Regions from separate parts of the Homo sapiens genome. Here region 2 is linked to region 1. The links come from fine-mapping of genetic effects on gene expression. Tissue or cell type: tibial artery. Region 1 holds a variant in brackets; the other region holds the start of a gene. All regions are shown on one strand. Distances are from middle to middle.

The links. PIP is the estimated chance that this variant, and not a neighbour inherited with it, causes the effect.
Region 2: ATF7IP2 starts here. The variant in region 1 is fine-mapped to the expression of ATF7IP2 in tibial artery (GTEx, PIP above 0.99).

The regions. Positions count from the first base shown.
Region 1 is chr16:10,487,144-10,495,325 of GRCh38, forward strand. No RefSeq gene overlaps it. Among named protein-coding and RNA genes, the nearest start is that of LINC01290, 37 kb to the right of the region's middle. The variant T/G (reference allele first, on the strand shown) is at 3,311.
Region 2 is chr16:10,382,046-10,390,227 of GRCh38, forward strand. It overlaps ATF7IP2 (activating transcription factor 7 interacting protein 2), which reads left to right and starts at 4,016. Exons shown (of 14, transcript NM_001393719.1): 1 at 4,016-4,077. RefSeq lists an enhancer at 370-439 and silencers at 640-709, 3,755-3,894.

The sequences.
Region 1 (8,182 bases):
TCCACCTAATAATGCCCTAGGCCTAACGTTAAAATATTAAAAGGATAATGAAAGGACCAAAAACAAGAAAAATCAGCTGCTGTCCCAGACCCTTCTCCTATCCCTGTTGTCCCCCTCCTTATAACCCTGCCTCTTGGGAATCGTCCCAAGAGCCCACTCACTACCAGCCTAAGTACCTTTCCCTAAAAGGACTTCAACGCGAGACAGAGCAATGTAAAAAGGATATTCAGAATTTCCCTTTCCCCTCTACTCGGAGGAAAGAGGCACGATCCATAGAGCCGTTATGGGAGCCTAGGAACTGTGAACACCCTCCTGGCCAAAACATTCCTACAACAGATCAAAAATTTCCCACCGAAGACCCCCAGTGGGACAATAACAACACAGCCCACCGAGAAAATATGCAGGACCTTAGAGAATTGATTCCCGTCTTTCGACCATATCTCGGGATGAATGTGTTCTTCATGTGCGGTGGTGAGCAAGTTTAGGGAGGGGAGGAATTTTCCATGATTGATTTGGAGGCCTAAGCCTAATTCTAGCATCAAATCTCTTCCTAATAGATTTGTCCCTGTACCCCAAACCCAGAATCTGTACCTGGGTTGAATCTGTACCCCGAACCCAGAATCTTACCTGAACATTTGATATACAGCAAGGGAAAGATGAAGGGCCTATAGAATTTTTAGACAGATTAAAGGAACAAATGAGAAAATATACTGGTCTAGGTCTCGAGGACCCTCTTGCATAGGAAATGTTAAAACTTCATTTTGTCAGTAACAGCCAGATATTAACAAGAAATTACAAAAGAAAGAGAACTAGAAAGATAAACCTATAGAAGAGTTTCTAAGAGAAGCCCAAAAAGTCTATGTAAGAAGAGACAAAGAGGCTGGGCGCTGTAATCCCAGCACTCTGGGAGGCCAAGGTGGGTGGATCACCTGAGGTCAGGGGTTCGAGACCAGCCTGACCAACAGGTAGAAACCCCATCCCTACTAGAAATACAAAATTAGCCGGGCGTGGTGGCGCATGCCTATAATCCCAGCTACTTGGGAGGCTGAGGCAGGAGAATCGCTTGAACCTGGGAGGTGGAGGTTGCGGTGAGCTGAGATCATGCCATTGCACTCCAGCCTGGGTAATAAGAGTGAAACTCCGTCTCAAAAATAAAGAGATGAAGAAAAACAAAAGCAGAAGGCAAAAATTCTGCCCACCATGCAACAAAGTACCCAGGGGCCCAGAACCTATAAAAACCTAGACCCCCACTCTCCAGGCAATATAAAGGGTATGAAAGTAAAGCCGGGAGACTCAAAGATAGAAGAAAAAAAAATCTGAGAGAGAAAGAAAGAGAGAGACAGAGAGTCAAAGGGAGAGAGAGGCAGAGAGAAAGAGAGGCAAAGGGAATCAGAGTGAGAGAAAGAGTAGAAGAGAGAGAGAGAAGCAGAGAGACAGGCAAAGAGAGAAGGAGAGGCAAAGGGAGAGAAAGAGGACAAAACAAATGCTTCAAATTAAAAATAGGTCACCCTCAAAAGAGAAAGTTCCAAATAGGAAGAAGAACAAAGGTCATATATAAAAGAAAATCAGCTAATATTAAATTTCTGTTAATTCCAGAAGCAGAGACAAATCTGCTACGAAGAGGTTTGATGCTAGAATTAGGCTTAGGCCTCCAAATCAATCATGGAAAATTCCTCCCCTCCCTAAACTTGCTCACCACCGCAGACAAAGAACACATTCATCCTGAGATACCGTCAAAAGATGGGAATTGAGGAAAGTTAGATTCCTCAGATTCATGTTAAATTAAAAACCCCTGGGGAAGTAGTAAAGAGAAAGCAAGGTACCCTATTCTTTTAAAAGCCAGGATAAATTTAAAACCTATAATTGATAATTGAAGGTCTTCTCAGTGATGGGCTTCTTAAACCCCGTATGTCTCCCTAAAACACTCCAATACTGCTTGTAAAGAAGCCAGATGGGTCATACCGGTTAATGCAAGACCTTAGAGCTATTAATCAAATAGTCCAAACTACCCACCCTGTTGTTCTCAATGCTTATACTATTAACAGTAGAGTCCCATACAGTCACCAATGGTTTACAGTAATAGATTTAAAAGATGCATTCTGGGCTTGTCCGTTAGCAGAGGACAGCCGGGACCTATTTGCCTTTGAGTAAGAAGACCCTCACTCCAGTCAAAAATAGCAATACGGATAGACAGTCTTACCCCAAGGGTTTACAGAGTCTCCAAATGTCAAATATTAGAACAAGTCATTTAATTAGCAAAGGTAAACCGTACATTGAGCTTGATCGGATTGAAGGCATTATATCCTTGCCTCTGCCGGAGACTAAACAAGAACTTAGAAAATTTTAGGATTAGTCGGGTACTGTCGTCTATGGATAGGCTTTTATACAAAAAGTTCACGCAAGATGGGCCAAACCCCCCCATTTGGCAATTACCAGAAATCCAATAGGTGGAAAGGTTAAAACATCTATTAGTAACTGCCCCTGTCCTAGCTTTACCCTCTGTAAGCAGCCATTCCATCTTTTTTCAGTGTGAACAAGGGCGTAGCCTTAGAAATACCCAAAAGCACAGAGGCCACTGGCAACCCATAGCCTTCCTATCAAAAATCCTTAATCCAGTAACCCGTGGATGGCCCAAATGCATTCAATCTATAGTGGCAACTGCTGTGCTAACAGAAGAAAGTAGAAAAATAACTTTTAGAGGAATCCTCATTGTGAGCACACCTCACCAGGTCAGAACTATCCTAGGTCAAAAAACAAAGGTAGCTTACTGACTCAAGAATCTTAAATCAGGCTATTCTGTTAGAAAAAGATGATTTAACATTAACCACTGATAATTCGCTTAACCCAGCAGGTTTCCTAACAGGGGATATAAATCTAAAGAGAGAGCACACATGTTTAGATGTAATTAATTACCATACAAAGATCTGACCAGACCTAGGAGAAACTCCCTTCAGAACAGGACAACACTTATTTACAGATGGTTCCTCCCAGATGATTGAGGGAAAAAGACACAATAGGTGTTCAGTAATTGACAGAGAAACTCTTGTAGAAATAGAGTTAGGAAATTTGCCTAATAATTGGTCTGCTCAAACTTGTGAGCTGTTTGCACTCAGCCAAGCCTTAAAGCACTTACAGAACCAGGAAAGAGCCATCTATACCAATTCTAAGCATGCCTTTGGAGTGGCTCATAGATTTGGAAAAATTTGGACTGAACGAGGTCTTATTAATAGCAAAGGCCAAGACCTGGTCCCCAAGGAATTAATCACCCAAGTATTAAATAACCTTCAATTGCCAAAAGAAATAGCTATTG[T/G]CCATGTCCCCAGACACCAGAAAAAGCCTTTCTTTAATTAAAGTCCCAAATTTACAAGGTTTTCAACAAAAGGAAAGTTTGCTAAAAGTTAACAGTGTAACATGTATTATCCTAACTTTTAATCTTGTGCCGTAGGCAGTCTAGTCCACAGACATGAAGGAAGTTTGCTTTAGGAAAGAATGGTTATCATCTCTGACATTAAAAAAAAAAAAAGAATTTATGTAAAAACAATCTTATATGGTAAATTCTTGTCCTAAAATAAATTAACTGGTTGTTGAAAGAAAAGGATGTTTACAACAAGTCAGAAAGTTAAGGCATGTTAAAGATTGTCTGTGAAAGTCATGAAAAATGTTATAAAAGGGAATTTATGCCAGAAATGTTGTATAATTTAAAAGTAATTAGGCCTCCTGAATGTAAAACTATTGAAGAAACAGTTTATGTGCAAGGTGTGTAAGAAAAATAAAATATACTTTTGGTAAAAGGATTATAAGGTGGCATAAGAATGTGGATTTTTACCTACATTAAAAGTTTAAAAATTGTTTTGAAAATTTAAGGAAGTTTTGAAACATTAATTGTAAAGGAAATTCTGTGTGTAAACATATTAAAGTTAAAGGGGTATCATCCAGTTTTTCTGTGAACTGGGCATTAAAATAAAAGCACAACAGGTTTTTCTTAAAGCACTAACCTGGTCTTTAACAAAAATTATAAAGGGTTTAAAAGAGTCTATAAAAATCTTACCTTATGGTCAGACATTAAAATTGCATAAATATGTCACAAGGTTTTATTAAAATTGAGTTTAACATTAATAGCACATTAATATAAAGGTGAAATGTAGCTTATCCAGTATAAAATCATACAGGAAGCACTGTCAAATATAAAATGCTGTTTGGCTTTCTTTGGTCTAAAAACTAATAAAAATAGGTGCTAAAGAGAATTCAGAAAGAAAATGGATATTGCCAGACCAGAAAGAAATGTTATCCAAACCCCTTATGAGGAAAATCTTGTTCCAACTGCATCAAGGGAACCATTGGGGGCCCCAGGTCATGTGTGACGCAGTCCTCAGAGTTTATGGGTGGATAGAAATTTATACCCTGGCCAAATGGGTTACAGAAAGTTGCACAGTAAAAGCTTCCCCTTTAGGGAAAGGAGTCCAGGCTTAAGGCCATTCCAAAGTATCCAGATTGATTACACAGAGATGCCTCCAACTGGTCATCTAAAGTATTTATTAGTAATAGTAGATCACCTTATTCATTGGGTAGAAGCTATTTCCTTTTCAAGTACAACTGCTAATAATGTAGTCAAGGCATTAGTTGAAAATATTGTACCCATGTTTAGATTATTAGAAAACATTGATTCAGATAATAGGATTCATTTCACTGCACATGTCATTAAGAAATTAGCACAGGTACCAGATATAACATGGGAAGATACTCCTTGACACCCACCTTCATCAGGGAAAGTAGAAAGGCCTATTACCCTGTTGAGAGTCTGAACTGCTCCCCCCAAAGACATAGGCCTATCCCCTCATGAGATGCTTTATGGATTGCCTTATCTACATTCTATTACTGATCTTCCTACATTTGAAACAAACAATCAGTTTCTCAGAAATTATATACTTGGTTTACCTTCCACTGTCTCTTCCCCCAGAACTAAAGGTCTTTTAGCACAGGTGCCACCCCTAGAGTTTCCAGTACACCACCATCAGCCTGAGGACCACGACCTCGTCAAAAGTTGGATGGAGGGAAAACTCAAACTGGCTTGGGAAGGACCCTACCTAGTGCTGCAAACCACCGAGATCTCAGTTCGAAAAGCAGAAAACGGATGGACTCATCACACCTGGGTCAAAAGAACAACACCCCCTCCAAAATCACAGACAGCTATTCCAAGGCCAATTCCAAGGAAGCTAAAGCTAAAACGGGGTTGATCCTCTTATATTGCATCTCTTTCTTTTCCCCTCCTATTGCTAGTCCTCTCGTTATTAATGTAACTAGGTCGAGTTCACCCCAAACTATTACTTTTGATGCTTGCCTTGTGATGCCCTGTGGAGATTTGCCAAACCAGAGGCAACTCTCCACTTCAGAAAAGTATTTTTATCCTTCCTAGCTCTCCTTAGACCGGAAATCTGTTAACTGGGATAAGTTAGTTTGGGAAGAGTTTGACGAAGATTTCCAGTATAAACTGGGAATCCCGTCCTCCTAGAGAAGAGCTTCTCTGCCGAAGTTGGTCCAATGCTTTACAAAATACTAAAGAGCAAGGATGGACCGCCCCAACTAGTACTTGCAGCTTCTTAAAACCATATGTTCATTTTACTAAAGAAGTTACCCTCCCCATTGTCAGCTGAACCAGTATAATCCAGTACAGATGACCATCTCTGCTCCCCAGAGGTCTTCCCCTTCATTAAGCTGTTTCTATGATATAGGAACAGAAGTCTCAGGGAAGGACCCCATAAGATCCTTTGAAATGTGCTTCACTGCCTCCTCACCTCCTGCACGGCCTTCTCCCTCTCCTAAGTTCTCTGCTAAACAAACCTTCTCTTGTTATATACCCAGTGATAGGATCAAAGTGGACGTTGAGGAAGTAAATGATTTAAAACAAACTTTAGCAATAGAGACAGGATATCAACATGCAAATGCCTAGTTGGAATGGATCCGATATTCTGTTCGCACGCTAAACAAAAGCAATTGTTATGCCTGGGCACACAACAGGCCAGAGGCCCAGATTGTCTGCTTTCCACTAGGATGGTCCTCCAGTCGACCAGGCATGGGCTCTATGGTAGCTCTTTTCCAGGATCCCACAGCCTGGGGTAGCAAGTCGTGCCAAGCTGTCTCTCTGCTATATCCCGAAGTCCGACACCCTGCTGGTCAGCCTCTGAGGGCCATCCAGCCTCCATCTCCCAACACTAAGTTCACTTCGTGTCTTTCACGACAAGGAGGGAACTTATTCCTTGGAGACCTGAAAGGACACGAGACTTTTCAGGAGCTTACCAATCAGTCAGCCTTAGTCATCCCCGAGCAGATGTGTGGCAGTATTGTGGTGGACCTTTACTGGACACTCTGCCAAGTAACTGGAGCGGGACTTGTGCTCTAGTCCAACTGGCTATCCCTTTCACCCTGGCATTTCATCAACCAGAGAGAGGGAAAACACAACATCGTAAAACAAGGGAAGACCCTTATGGGTCTTTCAACTCTCATGTTTATTTAGATGCAGCTAGAGTCCCACAAGGAGTACTAGATAAATTTAAAGCTCAAGATCAAATAGCTGCAGGAGTTGAGTCAATATTTTGGTGGGTGCCAATAAGAATGTAGACTGGATAAATTACATTTATTACAACAAACAGCAGTTTATTAACTACACTAGAGATGCTGTTAAACGAATAGCTGAGCAATTAGGGGCTACCAGCCAGATAGCTTGGGAAAATAGAATAGACTTAGATATGATATTAGCAGAAAGAGGAGGAGTTTGTGTCATGATTAAAACTCAGTATTGTAGTTGCCAGGCACGGTGGCTCATGCCTGTAATCCCAGCACTTTGGGAGGCCAAGGTGGGTGGATCATGAGATCAGGAGTTCAAGACCAGCCTGACCAATATGATGAAACCCCGTCTCTACTAAAAATACAAAAATTAGCTGGGTATGGTGATGTGCACCTGTAATCCCAGCTACCCAGGAGGCTGAGGCAGGAGAATTGCTTGGAGCCAGGAGATGGAGGTTGCAGTGAGCTGAGATCACGCCATTGCACTCCAGCCTGGGCAACAGAGCAAAAGCAAGACTCCATCTCAAATAAAAAAACAAACAAACAACAAAACAAAACAAAAAAACCCTCAATATTGTACCTTCATCCCAAACAATACCGCCCCTGATGGAAGTATAACAAAGGCATTGCAAAGTCTAACTGCTCTGTCCAATGAATTAGCCAAAAACTCAGGAGTAAATAACCATTTCTCAGGGCGGCTAGAAAGGTGGTTCGGTAAATGGAAAGAAATCATAGCCTCAATTCTTACTTCTCTTGCAGCTGTAATAGGTGTACTCATTCTTGTTGGGTGCTGTGTCATACCATGCATCCGTGGGCTGGTGCAGAGAGTCATAGAGACAGCACTTACTAAAACCTCCCTTAACTCTCCTCCACTTTATTCAGAGAAGCTTCTTCTTTTAGAGAATCAGGCAGAACAACTAACCCAAGACACGTTAAGGAAGTTTGAAGAGAAAGTAAAATTCAAGAGGATGAAGTTGTTGAATACAGTGAGTTCTAAATTTCTCTTCAAAGAATCAGTATGTCAGTATGTTCAGTTCTTTATTCTCCATTTTATAGTTTAACTTCCTCATTCTCCTCACCCCTAGTTTCAGTAGACAACCTTTTCCAGTTTTAATCAGTAGTTCACATCTGTTCCCCTGGTCACCTGCTCCATCCTGAGTCACCCCTGGTCACCTGCTGTGTCCCGAATTATCCTGAGTCACCTGTTCTGTAACTGCCCTTCCTGCCAAACTACTTACTCCACCACTCCAGTTCATACCCCTGCTCTCTTTAAAATAGCCAGTCAGAATCAGCTTAGACTGTGAGGTCCAACCCTAGCCAATAGGGGACGTGGCAGTAGGGGCTACCTGCGTCAGGAATAAAAACCCCTTCTCCTCCCTTGTTCAGGTGCGCTCTCGCCATTGCTCCATCCGTGAGTCACACCCTTCTATAGAAGTAAAATTGCCTTGCTGAGAAAATTAAATTTATGTTCCAGTGCTATTTCTTTTGCAGCACCAAAAAATTATTTGTAACTTTCTGTAGCTCCCTGCCTGAGACAACGGGGACTCCCAGGACACAGGAAGAACAACCTTGCTCTGAGGAATTGAGGAGGGCAGTAGCTTCCCAACCTATCCTGGAAAGC
Region 2 (8,182 bases), 110 kb before region 1:
TGCCTCGGCCTCCCAAAGTGCTGGAATTACAAGCGTGAGCCACCACGCCCAGCCTCACATTGGTTTTCATTTGTGCTGCTGCCTCTGTGGTCCAGAGAATAAGAAGGGTGCTGCTTCTGCTGCCCAAAGGGCAGAAAAGTTCAGAAAACCACTGTTGTCACAGCTGCCTTTAAATAACTGAGACAGGGACTGGTGCGAAAGAGAGCCAAAGCCTAAGGAAAAAACCCACAATAACATGTATCTCTGCCACTTTTCAAATTTCAGGAAGTGCATTACACTGGGTAAAACACAACTGAATCCAGAATACAGGAGGCAAGGGCTCCTGGGAAATGTAGTTCATAGGGTTTCCGCCTTGCCTTAGGGAGTGCTGAGAAGTGTGTGGAATGAATGCTTGCATTTGTTTTCTATTGTTGCCATAAAAAGTTACCACAAACATAATGGCTTAAAACACTACCCACTTATCTCACAGTTCTATATAGAAGTCAGAAGCACAGTGGACTCAGCTGGGAACTCTGCTTAGGGTCTCAATAGGCTGTCAGCCAGCTAAGGCTCTGCAGAAGAATCTGCTTCTGGGTTCATTCAGGTCGTTGGCAGTACTACTTTCATTCTCAAGGTTTACATGTGGTCCCCCTCATCTTCAAGCCAGGAACCATGGGCTGAGTTCTGCCTGTGCTTTGAAAATCTATGACTTTCCTTTCTGCTGCATCTGTGTGACTTGTCTTTTGCCTTTAGGGATTCACGTGATTACACTGTACTCACCAGGGAAATCCCGGTTAAGTTCTCCATCTTAAGGTCAGCTGATTACAACCTTAATCATATTTGCAAAGTCCCTTTTGCCATGTAAGGTGACTTATAACCATAAGACGCACACTAGGAGACAAAGATCATGGGAGTACAAATTCTGCCCGCCACAATCCTCAATGGAAGAAAACTATCAAACAAGAAAGCATTCCAACACAAAAATGTAAAGAATTTACTCAAGATAATTGATATTCTCAGCTTTATTAATTTTAATAATAATAGTTACTATACATCAAGTGTCTACTATAAGTCAGGAAATGTACAAGCAACTGTATCTGTTATTATGTTAAGCATTATTTTAAAAAGTCAAACAGCAAATTGAGAGACTTCATAGTACTTCATATAGCACATTATGTGAATGAATTTATTTATTTATTTATTGAGATGGAGTCTCGCTCTGTCACCAGGCTGGAGTGCAGTGGCGTGATCTTGACTCATTGCAACCTCCTTCTTTCAGGTTCAAGCAATTCTCCTACCTCAGTCTCCCAAGTAGCTGGGACTACAGGTGCGCACCATCATGCCCAGCTAATTTTTGTATTTTTAGTAGAGACAGGGTTTCACCATGTTGGCCAGGATGGTCTTGATCTCAAGTGATCTGCCCACCTTGGCCTCCCAAAGTGCTGGGATTACAGGCATGAGCCACCGCACCCAGCCAACAATAAACTTTATTAACATAATGTCCAGTAAATATCAATTATTATAATTTTTTTATAGAGATGGGGTCTCGCTATATTGCCCAGGCTGGTCTCAAACTCCTGGGCTCAAGCTATCTGTCGGTCTTGGCATCCTAAAATGCTAGGATTACAGGTGTCCACCTGGCCTATTATATTACTATTGTTAAAATGACATACAAGATATCCTAGTACCTTAAATAGACATAACATTTCTAAAGGCTAGTTACTCACTGTTAACTGAATTAAGTCCAAATTCCTTATCTGACTGCAACTTACTACCTCCCACTCCCTCCCACACTATCTCTCTTAGCAACCCTATAATTATTTTCAAAATCATGTTCTAGAACAACAAAAAATGTGCAAAGATTAGGATTGTTTTACATTTTTGCTAATTTCCTTAACGTCTGACTTAATACAGTAAGACTCTCTCTCTCTTTTTTTTTTTTTTTTGGTTTTTGAGACGGAGTCTCACTCTGTTGCCCATGCTGGGGTGCAGTAGTGCGATCTTGGCTTACCACAAACTCCACCTCTCGGGTTCAGTCGATTCTCCTGCTTCAGCCTCCCGAGTAGCTGGGATTACAGGCACGCGCCACCATGCCCGGCTAATTTTTGTATTTTTAGTAGAGATGGGGTTTCACTATGTTGGCCAGGCTGGTCTCGAACTATTGACCTCATGATCCGGCTGCCTCAGCCTCCCAAAGTGCTGGGATTACAGATGTGAGCCACTGCGCTTGGCCTCTCTCTCTCTCTTTTCTAAGACAGTCTCTTGCTCTATCACCCAGGGTGGAGTGCAGTGACACTATCACAGCTCACTGCAGTCCCTAACTCCTAAGCTTAAGCGATCCTCCCGTCCTCTCAGCCTCCCGTGTAGGTGGAAGGATGCAGCTAACTTTTTATTTTTACTTTTCTAGAAAAGTGGGTATCTCACTTTGTTGCCCAGGTTGGTAGTTAGATTCTCATGTCTGCTTCTGTATTCAATCTGTAGCAATATCACCCGTCGATTTTCCAGAGGCTTCTAGAAAATTCCATGTACTCTCCTGACTCAGAGAATGAAAAAAGCAAAATCATCTTTATATTATTATAAAAATAGTATAATTATAAAAATAGGATTGACATTAAAGATTACCCCTAGATCCCTGGAGCATATTTGGGGAACTGGCTGGTTGGAGTATGTTATTCCATTGATGACCCAACCTAGATTGTCCGGACTTGCCTCATTTTTCTCCTAACTGGAAGTGACAAGGCAGGCAGCTCTAGCCTCATGACAAGCGTGGTGGCTCACGCCTGTAATCCCAGCACTTTGGGAGGCCGAAGCAGGTGGATTACCTGAGGTCGGGAGTTCATGACCAGCCTGATCAACATTGAGAAACCCCGTCTCTACTAAAAATAAAAAAAAAACTTAGCCAGGCACTGTGGCGCATGCCTATAATCCCAGCTACTTGTTGGGGGCAGAGGTAGGAGAAGCGCTTGAACCCGGGAGGCGGAGGTTGTGGTGAGCCGAGATCGCGCCATTGCACTCCAGCCTAGGCAACAAGAGCAAAACTCTGTCAAATAAATAAATAAATTAATTAATGAAAAAGAGGGCATTATGGATCTAATCTACTGTTGTATTTCCTGTATTTTCTACACAGTGGGCATTCAGTGACCACCTGTTGAGTGAGTTCATGGCATCCAAGTGCACAGCCACCTAAGGCATCGGGCCTCATGAAATCACAAGCAGCCAAGGCTGGCAGGTTCCTGGGACAATTTAGCAAACTCAAGGCTATGGTGCGGGTGGGTGCAGTGGCTCATGCCTGTAATCCCAACATATGGGGAGGCAGAGGTGGCGGATCACCTGAGGTCCAGGAGTTCAAGACCAGCCTGGCCAACATAGTGAAACCCCATGTCTATTAAAAGTACAAAAATTAGCCGGGCATGGTGGTGCACACCTGTGGTCCCAGCTACTCGGGAGGCTAAGGCAGGAGAATCGCTTGAACCTGGGAGGTGGGAAATGGGGGTACAGTGAGCTGAGATCACGCCACTGAACTCCAGCCTGGGCGACAAGAGCGAAACTCCGTCTCAAAAAAAAAAAAAAAAAAAAAAGACTACGGTGCTAGGACCAATCTCCTGAGTCACAAAATTTAAGGAGTCGTCCAAAAAAGTAAATAAGATAAATATTTTCAAACAATATTAGAAAATTCAAATCGGAAACTACCGACCGGGTGAGGAGTTGTTTTTGTAAATAAGGTCTTATTCCTAATAAGTTTCGAAAGTCTAAATCTTCACACGAGTCACTCAAAAGAAAGGCCCAGCTCAGGAGCCTGCATCTGCGCTATGGCGGGTAAGCCCCGGTGGCTGACCGGAAGAAGCGCCCACGGAGGCGAACCCCAGGCGCCCCTCAGCCTACTTCCATTTCCCCTCGCGACCCTTCGCCCCGCCCACTCTAGCTGGCTGTGCCTGACTGGCTGGGCTGCCGCATATTCGCGCTGCCATTGGTCCATAATCAGCTGGGGGTGGGCGTAGGGAGACCTACTTCAGCAGGTCCTGGCCGGACCAGCATTGTTAACGGCTGCGGTTCGAAGTGGCTGTGGGTATTGCTGCGGCTGGTGCGTCGTCGCTCTAGGTACGTTGGGGCCGGGCGAGTGTCCTGCGAGAGCGGCGATTGGCGGGGTGGCGGCTCTAGGAGCGTCGGTCGCCTCTCTGAGGGCCGGCCCCGGAGGCCTCGGAGCGCCGGGCCTACCGGACGTTTGCGGCGAAGCTGCCCTGACTGAAAAGCGTCCGCGGGGCCGTCTGACAGGTCCGGGAAGAGGCCCCTGAGGGGCGGACGGGCGCGTCTCCACCGTTTTCGCAGAGGGATACTGGTGAAGCGGGAGTGGTGTGCGGCCTCAGGTCCGGGCGGCACTGGGGTTAGGGACTGCGGAGGGAAGTGGTGCGTGTTTTTTGTCCTGAGGGGTAAGTAAAAGCTCGCTCTTGTCCGGAATGCTTTCAGAAATTAACGGATAAATCTCCACCTCCACCAATTTTAGTGTCCCATTGCCAAATTTTCTTGAGTTGTTTTAATCATCTAATGAAGTCAGGTGCCAGAAGGCAACTGGATCTCGCCTGGCGGCCTTGAAGTTTGTTAAAAAGTAGGGACCAGAGCATCAGGAAAAATACAAAATTCTGAGTAAAATGCTGAAATCCCGTACCTCTGAGCTTGCCGGTGTAAGGATGGTAGGATTTAAGGAAGACGATTTCCTTAAGGTAGAAGTTCGTTTTTATGAATATGTTTTTAAGAAAATTCCATCTTATCGCCCTTCTCTAACCAGTTTTCTCCAAGTTTGGCAAGCAAGTTTGAGAAAGAGAGGACGCAATAATTTTTTTTGCCTTATTTTTGTTAAAACCTTACCGCACTTAAGGAAACGGACTTTCTACCTTTCCGTGTTTCTGTGTTGAAAATGAAGTTTCTAACCACGTGTTCCTTCCTTTACGACACAATGGCTTTTTCTGTTCTGAAGACTTGCATATGGTTAATATGTATGGAAGAAGAGGACAGTTGTACTGAATAGTCCACATTAGAAAAATTATGTCATATTCACTTAAATTGTTATTCTAGATTGCGACTTAATACTGTTTTTATTATGATTTTGTCATATTTATTGTAGCCAGTAAATGACCTGCGACATAACTATTTGCAAAACAAATGGGGAAGACCAAGATAAAGATAAGTTATATCACAGGAAAGCAATTGAAAATGCAAAAATGAAGCATCTGAATGAAGGACTAATAACACTGAATTCAGCTTTTGTGAAGTATGCCTTTCTTCTTAGCTCGTTTATTCTGCAATACGTTTGTAGAAGTGTTGACTCCGATCTTAATCAAATTTACTTCACTCTCAGTCTTATCTGCAGATATGTACAGACCACATCCTAAGATTGACTTCTGCCTCAACAGAAATACATGAGCCAGTGCCTTATTGGAAATGATTTGCGTGTTTTAAGAACTGGTGTATATAGGTACATCTTGAATGTTCTGCTTTCCTTGCCTTATGCCTGTACTTCACCTCAGCCTTCAATTCCATTGTGTTTCCTTGCTACTTGGTATCTTGAAATCTGGTACGAAACTATTGCATGATCCCTGCACCTTTGCTTCTGCATATATCATAGCTCTCTTATAGTGAGTGTGCACAATCTATTTCATTTGATGTAATCAAAGTTTAATATATTGGATAGTTAAAAATAAAATACAACTTTAAATGCGCAAGAGTATTAGTTCTCATTGTTGAGCGAGATGATACAAAATACCAAAAAATCTTATTCTCTCATTCTATGTCAGTCTATTTTACTCCCCCCCCCTCCCCCCGCCACCCGGACACACACACACTGCGGTGACTTATCTATCTCGTTTATTTTATTTTATTTTACTTATTTATTTTTCTTTGTGAGGCAGAGATTCGCTCTTTGGCTCAGGCTGGAGTGAAGTGGCGCGATCTCGGCTCACTGCAACCTCCTCCCTCCGGGTTCAAGTGATTCTCCTGCCTCAGCCTTGCAAGTAGCTGGGATTATAGGCGCCCGACTAGTTTTTGTATTTTTAGTAGAGATGGGGTTTCACCGTGTTGGCCAGGCTGGTCTCGAATTCCTGACCTCAGGTGATCAGCCCGCCTCTGCCTCCCAAAGTGCTAGGATGACAGGCGCTAGTCTTAGCGCCCGGCCTATCTCATATTTTTATATCATTTAGATAATTATTCTGCTTTACAGTAGACTAGGATAGTTTTTCATCTTCATTTTTACCAACGATGGGACAGATTGGAGTCAGCCAGTGTCTAGAGAGAAATAACCATGACTTTTTGGAGGAAAGGGAGATAATATATTGGATTTTTTTGAACTTCTGATTAAGCCATGAAATGTTTAGAGAGGTGTTACTGAAGTTAGCCATGAATTATTTAGAGGCATTATATGTGTCTACTAAATGTGGTCATAAGTTTCATTAGTATACCTCTGAGGCTCTAGTGTGTACAGTATGCTGATGTGAAATAGCTTATCAGATAGCCATGGCAAAAGTTGCCAAGGCCTTTTTAGTACTCTTTACTAAGGAGACAGTGACTTTGGGAGGCTTTTCAGTACTTGTTATTAAGGAGAGAATAACTCTGGGTGGCTTTCCAGAGGTTTGTTTTTTAAGTGAATATTCATTAAACAGCATTAAAACTACTGTAAGAAAGGCATGTCACTGAAGATATAAAAAATATTTGTAGGCCGGGCGCGGTGGCTCACACCTGTAATCCCAGCACTTTGGGAGGCTGAGGCAGGTGGATCACGAGGTCAGGAGATTGAGACCATCTTGGTTAACATGGTGAAACCCCGTCTCCACTAAAAAATACAAAAAAATTAGCCGGGCGTGGTGGCCGGCGCCTGTAGTCCCAGCTTCTCGGGAAGCTGAGGCAGGAGAATGGCGTGAAGCCGGGAGGCGGAGCTTGCAGTGAGCCGAGATCGCACCACTGCATTCCATCCTGGGCGACAGAGCAAGACTGTCTCAAAAAAAAAAAAAAATTATAGTGGGAAATTTAGATAAAGAAGTAGTAGTTCTCTCGGGGCTGTTTTTTTGAGGAGGTGATCTTTAAGCTTGATCTTGAAAGAGCATAGACTAGGAGGGAAGGTTGATAATATGACAGTTCTGGTCAATTTGGAAAGTGAAGGTTAGGTTTATAAGAAGGTTCAGTTGATATCTCCAGGAAAAGACAAACTACTGTGAAAGAAAGATAGTGTAGTCATGGTAGTCTATCTGGCTATATAGAGAATATTTATAACAACTTAAATATTGATTTAACTGAAAATACGATGAGCTGTAAGAGACGTGTGAACTACAGAACTGGATCTACGAATGACAGGAGGGCAGACCACAGTGCTTTTCACATCCTCCCCTCCTTCCCTTGGGCATAAGACCTGGCTATAGGAAATCTAGCTAATTACAAGAACGTCTTTATAATTTGGAGGGAAACTCTTGGAACTGTGAGTGCTCCCCGTCCAGTGTTACCATCCCCTACCATCCAATTAAAATGTTTCCAACCCACCTCCAAAAAAAATACATATGTGAGCTAAATCTTCATCTGCAATTACAGGAAATCGACATGGCTAAAATTTGTAACTCAAGAAACAGTATGAAAATATTTTAAAATACTGAGATTTTAAAAACAAGTTGTTAAAATTAAAGTGATTGCCATTAGATATTCGGGAGTGCTGGCAAGCAACTGCTTTATTTCATAATGAGCATTTTATACTATTACATTGATAAAACTTGAAAAAAGTAATGTCAGAATTCTATTAGCATTCAGGTGATGCGGATGCTGCTGGTCTATGAACCACACTTGGCATTACTTCATGGTCATTATGAGATTAACTGCCACCTGGCCTGAGTTTTGTTATTTTGTTAACCACTATATAACTCTTAAAGGGCCCTGTCGCTTCATAATAACTGTTTTGTGTTTGTGATAGACTTCTTCGAGTCTTAAGACCCTCCGTTCAAATATTGGCTGAAGTACCTGACTTTGAACAAGATTAGTTAAATGGGTTTTTTCTAAATTTTTACTTTTTAAAAAGAGTAACAGTAAAAATTCAGTTCAGTAGTTTTTTTTAATTTAATGAGAATTGTTCTTATTAAAGTGTTTATTATGTATTAAGATACTACCTTGGAGAACATCACTGGAGAACAGAGATGTTTTATAATGGAGAAACCCAATGAAGCAGGAAAAAACC